Regions from separate parts of the Homo sapiens genome. Here all the other regions are linked to region 3. Evidence: fine-mapped expression QTL. A gene starts in region 3. Each other region holds a variant in brackets. All regions are shown on one strand. Distances are from middle to middle.

Region 1 (4,235 bases), 24 kb before region 3:
GGAGGCTGAGGCAGGCAGATCACAAGGTTAGGAGTTCGAGACCAACCTGACCAACCATGGTGAAATCCCGTCTCTAATAAAAATACAAAAATTAGCCAGGCATGGTGGCACACACCTGTAATCTCAGCTACTCAGGAAGCTAAGGCAGAAGAATCACTTGAAACTGGGAGGCAGAGGTTGCAGTAAGCTGAGATCGCACCATTGCACTCCAGCCTGGGCAAAAGAGCGAGACGCCATCTCAAAAAAAAAAGAAAAAGAAAAAAAGAAAGTGAAAACTATCACTCCCCTACAAATGTATTTTATCAGAGTACCTGAGAAGTGGGTTCTAGTCACTAATTTTTTTTTTAACTTCCTCAGATTGAGAACCGCACTTAGAAGGAGCTGCTTTAGGAGTTATCACTATCAAGCCCACTGAGCCCATCATCATTATCTGCATGGTCCACAGGAAACCCAACGGTATGGCAGAAGACAAGGTGAAGCACCAAGCCCTGGTTTTATTTGATTTAACAGACTTGGGCTGACAGGACCAGATTCTAGAGGCACACTAGGACACATTACAGACTAGGGCTAAGAAACCCTGGATTCAGGTAAAGATAAAGTCACTATACTAACAGCAGAACTTGGTAATGTCACTTAACTTCTCTGAGGCTCAAGTTATTAATTTTTTAAAAAAGGATTGGAGTAAATCACCTCTGAAGATCCTTTGATCTCAAACACCTTGATGATTTCTAACCATGTTGTAACAAATCGGTCAAATGAATAAGCAGAGTGGTCCTTACAGTAATGCATGAATATCTTCTGCAAATATCAGATTAACCTCATATATACAATTTTGGGCTTATTTACATAAAAATCCTACTCCTCACCACACCATAAGAAATCTTAACTGAACATTAGTGTGTTCTATCAAGTCAATTACAAATGAAAATTAAACTGGTCACATAAGCCCCAAAGTAAATATAAACATTTGGGATAAAGTAAAAAAAAAAAATTTTCTTTTGAGACGGAGTTGCGCTTTGTTGCCCAGGCTGGAGTGCAATGGCAAGATCTCGGCTCACTGCAACCTCCACCACCCGGGTTCAAGCGATTCTCCTGCCTCAGCCTCCCAAGTAGCTGGGATTACAGGCATGCGCCACCACACCTGGCTAATTTTGTATTTTTAGTAGAGACGGGGTTTCTCCATGTTGGTCAGGCTGGTCTCAAACTCCTGACCTCAGGTGATCCACCCGCCTCGGTCTCCCAAAGTGCTGGGATTACAGGTGTGAGCCACCGCACCCGGCTGGAATAAAGTAAATTTTTAAAGTAACTCTTTAACCTTTTCACTGTCAACACCATCCTGATGTTTTTTATAATTTTTTTCCATCTGTAAAAATTGTTGTAAAACATATGTAACATAAAATGTACCATTTTAATCATTTTTAGGTGTACAGTTCAGTGGTATTAAGTACATTCACACTGTTGTGCAATCCTCACCACCATCCACCTCCATAACTTTTTAATCTTTTCCAAATGAAACTCTGTACCCATTAAACATGAATTCCTCATTCCCTCCTCCCCACAGGCCCTGGCAAGCATTATTCTAATTACTGAATTACTGTTTCTATGACTCTTATATTCCAGATACCTCATATAAGTGCAATCATGCAATATTTGTCCTTTTGTGTCTGGCTTTTCTCATTTAGCATAATGATCTGAACGTTCATCCATGTTACAGCAGTGTCAGCATTTTCTTATTTTTAAAGGCTGAATAATAGTAGCCCATTGTATTCATACACCACATATTATCTATTCATCCATTGATGGACACTTGGGTTGCATCATTCTGATTTTTTTTTTAACCATCAGTAGTTATTTTGAAGTCACATACAAAAAAGATGAATGAACTTTATGTCATCAACTTTTTTTTTCTTTTCAAGAGAGAACAAAATTTCACTCTGTTGCCCAGGCTGGAGTACAGTGGTGCGATCATGGCTCATGTAGCCTCAACCTCCAGGGCTCAAGCAATCCTCCCACTTCAGCCATATACAGGTATATGCCACCATACCCAACTAATATTTTAAAAATTTGTTGTGCAAGTGAAGTCTCTATATGTTGCCCAGGCTGGTCTCAAACTCCTGACCTCAAGTGATCCTCCCACTTACGCCTCCCAAAGTGCTGGAGTACAGGCATAAGCCACTGCACCTGGCCAGCTTTTCTTTAAAAAAAAAAAAAAAAAAAAA[G/AG]TAGACCACCTTGAGCCACAAAGAGCACCTTAACAAATTGAAAAGAATAGAAAGCATACAAGGTATGCTCTCAGACCACATGTAATTAAACTAGAAATCAACAGCAGAAAGATAGCCAGAAAAATCCCAAAATACATACTTGGAGATTAAACAATACACTTCTAAATAACAGATGGGTCAAAGAAGTCTCAAGAGATATTTCTAACTAAATGAAAATGAAAATATGACATCAAAATTTGTAAGATATAGAGAAAGCAGTGCTTACAGGAAATTGTACAGTGTTAACTGTAAACATTAGAAAAAAGATCTAAAAATCAATAATCTCAGTTTTCACTTAAAAACTTAGTTTTCTAGAAAAACTAAAAAAAATTAAATCCAAAGTGAGCAGAAGAAAACCAATTAGAGCAGAAATCAATTAAATTGAAAACAAAATTAATAGAGAAAAATCAGTGAAACCAAAAACTGGTTCTTTGAAAAGATCAACAAAATTGATAAGCTTCTAGCCAGATTAACAAAGAAAAAAAAGGGCAAAGACACAAATTACTAATAGAAAAAATGAAAAAGGGCCATCACTTCTGAACCTATGGACACCAAAAGCAAAACAAAGAAATATTATGAAGGACTCTAATCCCACAAATTTGATAACCTAGATGAAATGGAACAATTTCTTGAAAGACACAATGTATTAAAACTTACCCAAGAAGAAAAGACAATCTCAATGCACCTTTATCTATTAAGGAAATTGAATCAATAATCAATAACCTTCTAAAGCAAAAGGCACCAGGCCCAGATGGGTTCACTGGTGAATTCTACCAAACTGTTAAATTAGATATTATCTCGGGCCAGGCACAGTGACTCACGCCTGTAATCCCAGCACATTGGGAGGACAAGACAGGTGGATCACCTGAGATCAGAAGTTCAAGACCAGCCTGGCCCACATAGTGAAACCCCATCTCTACTAAAAATACAAAAATTAGCCAGGCATGGTGGTGCATGCCTGTAATTCTAGCTACTCAGGAGACTGAGGCAGGAGAATCACTTGAACCTGGGAGGCAGAGGTTGCAGTGAACCAAGATTGCGCCACTACACTCCAGCCTAGGCGACAGAGCAAGATTCCATCTCAAAAAAAAAAAAATAGATATTACCTCAATTCTCTTTCAGAAACAGAAGCAGAGGAAATATTTCCTAACCTATTCTATGAGGCCAGCATTACCCTAAACCAGACAGAAAAGAAACCAAAGAAAACTACAGAACAATACCTCTCATGAACACAGATACACAAATGCTAAATAAAATACTAGCAAACTGAATCTAACAATATACGTAAAGAATTATAGGCCAGGCACAGTGGCTCACTCCTGTAATCCCAACACTTTGGGAGGCCAAGGCGGGTGGATCACTTGAGGTCAGGAGTTTGAGACCAGCCTGGCCAATATGGTGAAACCCCATCTCTACTAAAAATACAAAAATTATCTGGGCGTGGTGGTGCATGCCTGTAGTCCCAGCTGCTCAGGAGGCTGAGGCAGGAGAATTACTTGAACCCGGGAGGCAGAGGTTGCAGTGAGATGAGATTGCACCGCTGCACTCCAGCCTGGGCGACAGAGCAAGACTCCATCTCAAAAAAAAAAAAAAAAAAAAAAAAAAAAAAGAATTATTGGTATATATGGTTGACACTGGAACAACACAGGTTGGATCTACATATGTCCACTTATATGTGGATTTTTTTTTCAATAAAACTTGGATTACAAATAAATTGTAGGCTGGGCGTAGTGGTTCATGCCTGTAATCGCAGCACTTTGGGAGACGGAGGCGGGCAGATCATATGAGCTCAGGAGTTTGAGACCAGGCTGAGAAAAAGAAAGATTCAATCTCTAAAAAAATTTAAAAACTTAGCTGGGTGTGGTCATGGGCACCCATAATCCCAGCTGCTTGGGAGGCTGAGGTGGGAGGACAGCTTGAGTCCAGGAGGCAGAGGTTGCAGTGAGCTGTGATCATGCCACTGCACTCCAGCCTGGG
Region 2 (4,235 bases), 78 kb before region 3:
CTCATTATCTTTGACCAAAAAAAAAAGAAAAGTCGCTAAGGGTGTGAAGTCAAGATGGCTTAGAACAAGATGACTGAGAAAAAGGCTTCCAGTTAGGTCAAGTTTTCAAATCATGTAAATAACTTCTACAGTAAAATCTGGCTTCTTAGCTATGTTAAATATCGAGAAGCATATTAAAATTTGATCTTTAACACTTATTCTACCCACAAATGTTTTGACAAGATGGCAGGTAGCTAGAGTCTTGAGGGTCAGAAACCAAGGCAAGATGAACTCTTTTAAGGAATTTCATATATAAATCTTTGTTCCCACTTTAATGCTGGAATGTTAACATCATTCTCTAAATATTTTACTAGATGAACTATGACCCTGATGAAAATTACTATCAACAGTAACTACTAAATATAACTTTTATATTCAATTAGGTTTGTTAGACGCATTTATAGAATATTTTGCTCATAAAATACTTTGAGAATGTGCCTTTCCAATAACTGAAAGTTTAATGAACTAGGAGAACAAGAATAGATGGGTAAGAATAAATTCTTCTGTTCATTAATTTTAACATTTCAATATTTATCACAGCAAAATTGGGAATGTATTTTTGATAGTTTACCATTTAGTTTTGACTGTGAAGCAACCAACTGCCTAGAAACATTCTTGGTTAGTGACAGAAACACTGAGAAATCAACATATTAGAATTCAAGGAACTGATCAAACTATAGATCAATATTAAAGTAAAACTGAGATGTAGTCATGACCAATAAAAGTATCAGCAACATCTACCACTAATACCTAATAATGGTGATTTCTAACAGATCAACCTTAATAACTACACCTCCTAGTCACTGGAGAGGGCTTTGCAATGAACATGTCACAGCAAGAGAATCCTGCACGTCACGGTGGTCATTACTCTTTTCTGACCCTCTAGTGTTTCCAGAAACCCCAAACACTAGTCCACAGGTTCAGGCAAACACAAGTCACACTTACCATTTCATGGGGGAGGGAAGGAGCAGAAAACACATGGAGAGATATAAGGTTCCAGCAGAAAAAGACAATTAAAAATGCTCACCCTATAGCCCATGTTTTGCCCTGTGCAGATCTAGGAATATCTGGAGCCAAATCAAATAACCTAAATATTAATGAGGCTCAAAATGCAAGTAAAGGTAAAGTACACTCAAAACAGGATAAAAATAAAACAGAATCAACTGTTGAAGACTGGAGGGCAATTACTTGTAAAAAACATAGGTCCTACAGATCCAAGCTAGATTTGAAAACTGAGTGCGACATCTCCAAACCAAACAAAGACATTCAAAACCAGGCACCTTCACAGTCACCTTAAAGCTGGAGGGAAAAAATGGATATACTTTTATCATCAAAACATAACCAGTAAGATTTTGTGCTGACACCTCACCAACCCATCAGCTCCTCTAAAAAACAGTCTTTAAATATTAATATTTCTAATGGCCAGGTACACATACATGACTGCCTGAGAAATGTCACCAGAGTGAGGGAGAATTTGTAAAATCCCATTCAACAAGTATTAGCAAAGGAAGGTTATGATTCATGGATATGAATGGACTCTAATATATAAATGACACATTTCTGATATATTCACAAAATATAGGAAGTATTAAAACTCAAAAAAGAAATAAGATAGGAGTCAAATAGATGAAATGTATAAAACAAATGAGCAGGCAAACTAAAAGTTCTTGAAAGTATTTTACTTCAGATTGAAAAATGAACAGCTTCCACACTGTTCACTGCAAGATACACAGTATTCACGAATACAATGCTGGTCATTTGAGGAAATGTATACACACCTCAATTTCTCCTTCATGCTTTTTTCTTTTAGAAAGATACTGTTTACCAAAAAGAAACTTCAGCAGTACAGGAAAAACTATTTTCCCAATAAATTTACGAAAACCTAAGATTCCCAATGGAATCAGAATTATCTTCCCGCTACCACCACCTTAATATAATCACATGCTTATTGGAACACTAATATTCGCACCCTAAGAGTACATTTACTTTCAACAATGAGGGTGATTCTTTAAAAACAAACAAAAAACAACAAAAAAAACTTCAGTGTGGTAAATGTAACATAGATCTCTGCAAGTATTAAGTGTCTGAAATAGGCAGCTAATACTGGATTTAATATTATTTTATAAATAATTGTTCCCTTAGCAGTAAACATAAGTCTACACATTCACAATTGTCCTAGAAAATAAATACTGTGATTATGCACAATGTTATGACAAACTAGTTTCAAAAACAAAAGCTCAACATCTCAATAAAAATTCTGATCAGAATAAAATGTGACTCTAAAATTTAAAACATTGTCAAAATAACATCACATTTGAAATCTTCCACAGTTTACACGAGTACTATGAGTTTCCAGTTTTGGAACACATTTTTCCATTGTGAATTAAAATATGAACATATTGAAAATTGTTAATTTCAGTGATGACATCAGTTTTGGTCTTACTTTA[G/TAAAG]CATTATTTTCTTTATAAAAAGTTACACTAAGTGTCCATTAATGGTCTGATTGGTCTTCAGTATTTCATAAATGTATATAAAAGAAACTCCTAAAAGCCAATAGTACTTTATATGTATATATATATAAAAGAATCTCGTCTCAGAAATGGCTGCATTTAACAGAGCCATACACATTGATGCTAAACATAAGAGCTTTCACCCTGAAAGAAAGCATTTTCAGAAATGTCACTTACATTCTATTATATTAAATATTCCCAACTGAGTTTCAAACTCAACAGGTAATGATAACAGAATTATACATCTCATTGCACTCAAAGCTGACTACAACCAAAATTTACAGTATGATTGAAACAAGCCAATGTTTAAAAAAGTTTTAATTAACGATAACAATTCCATGAAAGAAGAGGATAAAGAATGGGATGACAAGAAGTATTTGGTCTTAATAAGGCAATACAAAATAGATCCATTATCAAAGACCATTTAATTTGTAAAGATCAACAATACCAAAAGCATAGAGTGGAATATAAGAAAATAGTTTTTTATAAGTATGATTTAATTAAAGCTGTTTACAGTTATTCTCCCACAGTAGTTAAGCATGAATTTTAAAAAGAATAAGAGATGAGAAACAGGCACACGCAGCACACAGGGTTAGAGAAGCCAGCATGCAAAGTCTGTGGAACTCGAAGTTTCACTGCAACAGGAATGAGACCAGACATGGGTGACCTTTTTTTTTTTTTTTTTCCTATTAGGAAGAAATGGGGGGAAAAAAAAAAGACTGCAAAGGAAGCAAACACAAAGTCATGTAATTGCCCATTGCCCAAGACGACAGCACTATAGAAAACAGTTGCAAGTTAATTCTCGGAGATGACCAGAGATTTTTCAGTGTTTACACAAAAGTACATAGTACATTTTTTTTTTTTTACAAAATAAAATAAACATCATTTGCCACCATAAACCTTTTCTTTAGAGAGGAAAAATTTTTGCAGCAGGACACAAGGGTTCTATTAAGTCATTTCAATGCTGAGAAAAACAAATTGAGTAATAGAACTAATCACTTCCCTATATATGGATGTTAAGATGACAATTTAGATTATTTTTCAAACTAATCCTGAGAAAAAATCTGTTTACAATTTAAACAGTAATGTTATGTAAAAAGTATTATTAACAAATCCACTATTACAAATATCAATCTCCTATATGGTCTTCTATATATACACACAATAAAATGGTAAATATATGCAAAAATATTTAAAAAAAAAACATGCACAGATCACTTTCCCCTTTGGAATCTGGACTTCCTATCAGATACCTTTGTTTTCCTTCCCCACCTCATCCTCTGATACTGTTTTTTGTTTCTATCACCCTACCAACACTGAATACTATTCCCTATAACTCTGCATAAAGCCAATGAGAAATATATTTATTTTACATTCAAGCTTTAAATCTTAAAATGACCCTGTTGTAGCATATGACTTATCAAATAAGCAGCCTTTTTTTTCCCTCTTTTTTGCTTGCTTTTTTTTTTGTTTTGTTTTGTTTTTTTTGCAGTTGTCAGTCTTCATGATCCATTCTGTGGCGAGCTGGGAAAAAACGCAGTTGCTAAGTCAACGTCTGAACAGTGTGAGGCTCCTGAATATCTCCCAGGAGTCCCTGCGCAACTGTCCTGAGCATGAGATCATTGCACAGAGAAGACAGTCCACCGCGCAGCGCTGACTATCTACAGAGGTCTGAGAGGGGCGCGTCCCTCT
Region 3 (4,235 bases):
GGAACTTCAAGGTTTTCGTTGACAGTGATTACCTAACTGGAGCTTACTCCTGTGAAATGAAACTACCAGAAACCCTCAACATCAATTTGCTTGTCACTAAACCACAGGTTTACGCGTAGACTTGGAAATGCTAACAGGATGGAACCACAAGCCTTTAATAAAACGTGATGACCATGGAGAGCACCCTTGAAGCTTAGCAACAGAGGACTCAACCCTAAAAGGGTTCCCTTTCTGGAATGTGAGGGCAGGTTTGACATGTACCACAGCACCAGTCCTAGAACGCTTGACTGCATTTTCCACAAAAGGTAGGAGTTGTAATAGTAGCATAGAGCAGACACCAGCCCACTGGAAGCAGATGGAACCCACCAACTCATTTTATCCAGACCTTCAAAAAGGTACACAGAACTCTCTCTCTCAGCCAAAGCAGGGCAGATCTGAATGAATAAATCCAGGAAAAGGTTCACATGGGATTACTAATTGGTAATTTCATTTGCATGCTAAAGCCCTCAATGTAAAACACAACCTGAAAAATGAAAAGCAATTTGAAAGCCGGTTCTCCATACTCAAGCTACACACACACACACACACACACACACACACACACACACACCCACGAGACCCAAAAGCTTTGTTTTACAAAACAAATAAGATTCAGTGACCTATTCCAGCACAGGGACTCTTCTGAAGGGAGATCTAGTTGGAAACATTCCCTGCTTATGTACATAATTCACTAGGGGTCAGGTAAGATTCCATTTTCTAAGAGCTGAACTTTAAACAGAAAGTCACTAGTGGTGCAATATTCACTCATTAGCATAAATCTCTACCCCCTAGAATGAAAAGCATTGGCTGCCTCTGCCAGGATGACAACTTTACAGTGAGAAGCTGGAGCCGCGGACCATGAACTCCTGGAAAGTTCTATCAGGGCCTCAGAAGGGCTCACCACCTTCACCAGCCTAAACTTAGTGGTCACCCATCCCACGCCACCCTCTGCATAGACAGGGCATCTGTGACATGGGAATTTTTTAAAAATAAAAAGATGGGCCAAAGGGTCAAGAGCAGGCAATGCCTTACAGGGCTGACATAATTGCTGTCTGGGATTGGGGGATGGGGAGGAGCATTCTGGATGTTTCTATTCTTGGCAAGGAAAGCACCTCCGGGTCCTGCACCATCAAAAAACACTCACACACCAATGTTCTCAGGGAATGAATGATAGGCCCGTGCTAAGCGGTCTCATCTTGAGTTGTGATGATGGGGAAAAAGGTGTGGAGGGCTGGAGGCGGGGTGGTGGTCAAGGGTAGATGTGTTTAACTAAGGGGGATGGGAGGAGAGTGAATGGATAAAGGGGGGGGCCTGGGGAAGGTGTGGACGGTTAAGAGGGAGGGGAGGAAGGTGTGGACGACTAAGGGAGGACAGGAGACGGAGGGTGTGGACGGCTAAGGAGGCTTGGGGAAAGGTGTGAACGACTGGGGGGTTGGGGATGGCCAGCAGCACCCCCGTGCAACAGCAGCGAAGGCAGGCCGTGGGGGTGGCCGCTCCTAGACCCTCACAACCCCCCTCTGTGGGCGTGTGCCCGGCTGCGCATTCGCACCGGCCAGGCCATCGGGCCGCAGAGCCAGCACTCACCCCACGACTCCCTGGTTGTAGTTCCTCCGTTTCCACGGGGTCCCGCTGTACACGACCCCGCCGCCGTCTGCTCGGCCGCCCCCCGCGGCCCGCCCTCCGCTGGGCTGCAGCAGGCTGTAGTTGAGTCCATACGTGCTGGCCTTGTTGTCGCGCTTCCTCTTGTTGCTGCTGCCCGAGGCCGAATCGGCTGGATCGGCGGCGGGGACGGCGGCCGAAGGGTGCGGGGACGAGGACGCCGAGGGAGGCGAGGACGCCGAGGAGCCCGCCCGGCGGGCCCAGGCCCCGGGCTGGTGGTGGTTGTTGTTGTTGTTGGTCGTCTCTAGGGGCAGGAAGTCCCGCTGCTCCGCGGGCAGCGCGTGGCTGCCCAGCAGGCGCTCCCCGGAGCGATACATGCCGGCCGGGGCCGGGGCCGGGGCCGAGGCCGCGCCGCCGGGGCTGCCGGTGCTGCTGCCGCTCCCGCCGGTGGCCGTGCTGCTGCTGCTGCTGCTGCCGCCGCCGCCGCTCGCGCCGCCGCTGCTGTGACAGTGGTGGTTGAAGTAGAGGTTCCTCAGCCCCTGGGTCGTCTCCCAGATCTGCATCCACAGACTGTTGGACGGTCCGAGCTGCTCTGGCTGAAACCAGGCGATCCTCGGATCCATCAAACGGCGGCGGCCGCTGCCCCCGCCCCTCCCGGCCGCCCGCAGGGCCGCCGCCGCCGCCGCCTCAGGCGCACGCCCGGCCTCGGCTGCTGCTGCTGCTGCCGCTGCTGCCGCTGCTGCTGCTGCTGCTGCTCGGGGCCCGCCGCGGGCGGCGCGGTCGCGCAGGGAGCCCGGCCGGCGCCGGCGGCGTCGCTCCCGCCCTCGGGGGCTCCGCGGGCCCTCCCCCCCTCCCTCCGCCCCTCCGCCCCTCCGCCGAGCCCCTGTCACTGGGGTCCCCGTGCAAATGGCGGCGGCGGCGGCGGCGGCTCCACAGAAGAGCGAGCGGCGGCGGCGGCAGCGGCGGCAGCGAGACGCGCCTGCTCCGTAGCGTCCTCGCTCCTCCGGCCCCGGGGCGGGGCCTCTGCCGGCTCCGCCCCTCTCGCTCCGCCCCCCCCCCCCACCGCCCCGCCCTCACGCGCTCGCCCCGCCCCCGCTGCGCCGCGCAGCAGCCCGGGAGGCCTCGCCGTGCGTCACAGAGGCCGCGGCGCGACGGGGCCGCAACCGCCTGGCCCAACCGTACTTGCGCCATCTGTGGAGTGCTCCCACGTACCTGGGCGTCCGGGAGCTTCTGAGGCGCGCGCGGCTTCTCCGCCTCGGCTTCCCCGGTGCTGAGCGTGGACGAGGCCGCATGGAGGTTGCCGCCCGCCCCGCAGGGAGCGCGTTGTGGGAGGTGCCACTCCGCCCCTCGCTCCTCGCCCCTCCCATCCCTGTGGCCGCCGGATCCCGGGCCCTCGCAACCCTTCCTGACGTCTTGGCTTCTGCCTGCTTTCTAAAACACTTTCTTTTTAAAAAAAAAAAAAAAAAAAAAAACAGCCTATAACACTTTTTCTGGTGGCGTGGGGACACGCCCCCTGCCCGAGCGTGTGCCCCGGGGTCCTGACGCGGGCTGCGCGAGACCCTGCACGGCTACGTGTGCCCCGCCCTGCTGCGCCCTGGCCGGGGTGGGGGACCCCTCACCCCGGCCTGAGGCCACAGAAACCTGTACCCCATGCATAGCCCTGGGGGAGACCACTAAGACTGAGAGTGTGAGCCAAGGGCGGAAAGCCGCAGCCGCACACTCAACCCACTTTACAGGGACACGCAAACACGTGTAGATGCACAGAGAAGCAGACACACTCCTGCGCGGCGTAGCAAAGACGCTCTCCTGCCCTAAGGTGCACCAACAGCCTTAGAAAGCTCTTCTGAGTTCAGCATTAAATTTTAAGAAAACCCAAAACCTTTTAATCCTAAAATGAAGATTTAGCATCAGCAAAGATTGTCCACTAGGTCGTTATTTGCATGTCTTTCAAATCTCAGTGGTTAAAAAGCCAAGGAAAGGGGAATGTTAAGTATTTTAAATCAAGAGACTAAAAGAAAGTAAGTGAACAGCTTCTATGTGGGCCCTTTAAGGTTGGTCCAACGTCCAGAACAAGTCCCTGATGCCTGATATTGGCCTTCCATTTTGGGAGCTCAATATCCTGGAAAGTTTTTATGACAAATAGTGGAAAACTATCAAAGAACTAAGTGTCGCTCTACCTTTTTCTTTCTTTCGAGACTAACTCTTGCTCTGTCATCTGGAGTTCAGTGACTCATTCACAGCTCACTGCAGGCTCGGCCTCTTGGGTTCAAGCGATCCTCTTGCCCCAGCCTCCGAGTAGCTAGGACTATAGGCACGCGTCAACATGGCATAGAGACGAAGTTGCTCTGCGCTGCCCAGGCTGGTCTGGAACTCCTGGACTTAAGCGATCCTCCTACCTCAGACTCCAAAACTGCTGGGATTACAAGGGGGTGAGCCACCACGCCTGACCTTACTTTTTTTTTTTTTTTTGGTAAGAGAATAAATAGCACGACCAGAAATACGGAAAACACACAAAGACCCTTCAGCTGCAAACAACAGCTTCCTTGGTAGTTTATGCAGCCTGTTTCTTGTATGGGCTGCTCTAAGGGACCATGGAG

Evidence for each region.
Region 1: its variant is fine-mapped to the expression of TENT4B in whole blood (INTERVAL, PIP 0.96).
Region 2: its variant is fine-mapped to the expression of TENT4B in whole blood (INTERVAL, PIP 0.93).

The regions. Positions count from the first base shown.
Region 1 is chr16:50,176,127-50,180,361 of GRCh38, reverse strand. The region is part of intron 1 of TENT4B (terminal nucleotidyltransferase 4B); the gene reads right to left. Among named protein-coding and RNA genes, the nearest start is that of TENT4B, 25 kb to the right of the region's middle. The variant G/AG (reference allele first, on the strand shown) is at 2,220.
Region 2 is chr16:50,229,294-50,233,528 of GRCh38, reverse strand. TENT4B (terminal nucleotidyltransferase 4B) reads right to left here. Exons shown (of 12, transcript NM_001365324.3): 12 at 1-4,235. The coding sequence ends at 4,201. Among named protein-coding and RNA genes, the nearest start is that of ADCY7, 35 kb to the left of the region's middle. The variant G/TAAAG (reference allele first, on the strand shown) is at 2,487.
Region 3 is chr16:50,151,648-50,155,882 of GRCh38, reverse strand. TENT4B (terminal nucleotidyltransferase 4B) reads right to left here and starts at 2,577. Exons shown (of 12, transcript NM_001365324.3): 1 at 1,624-2,577. The coding sequence starts at 2,261. It also overlaps the pseudogene LOC124900375. RefSeq lists enhancers at 1-17, 877-926, 2,564-3,521 and silencers at 1,738-1,907, 2,028-2,077, 2,258-2,357, 2,588-2,747, 2,858-3,027 and 1 more.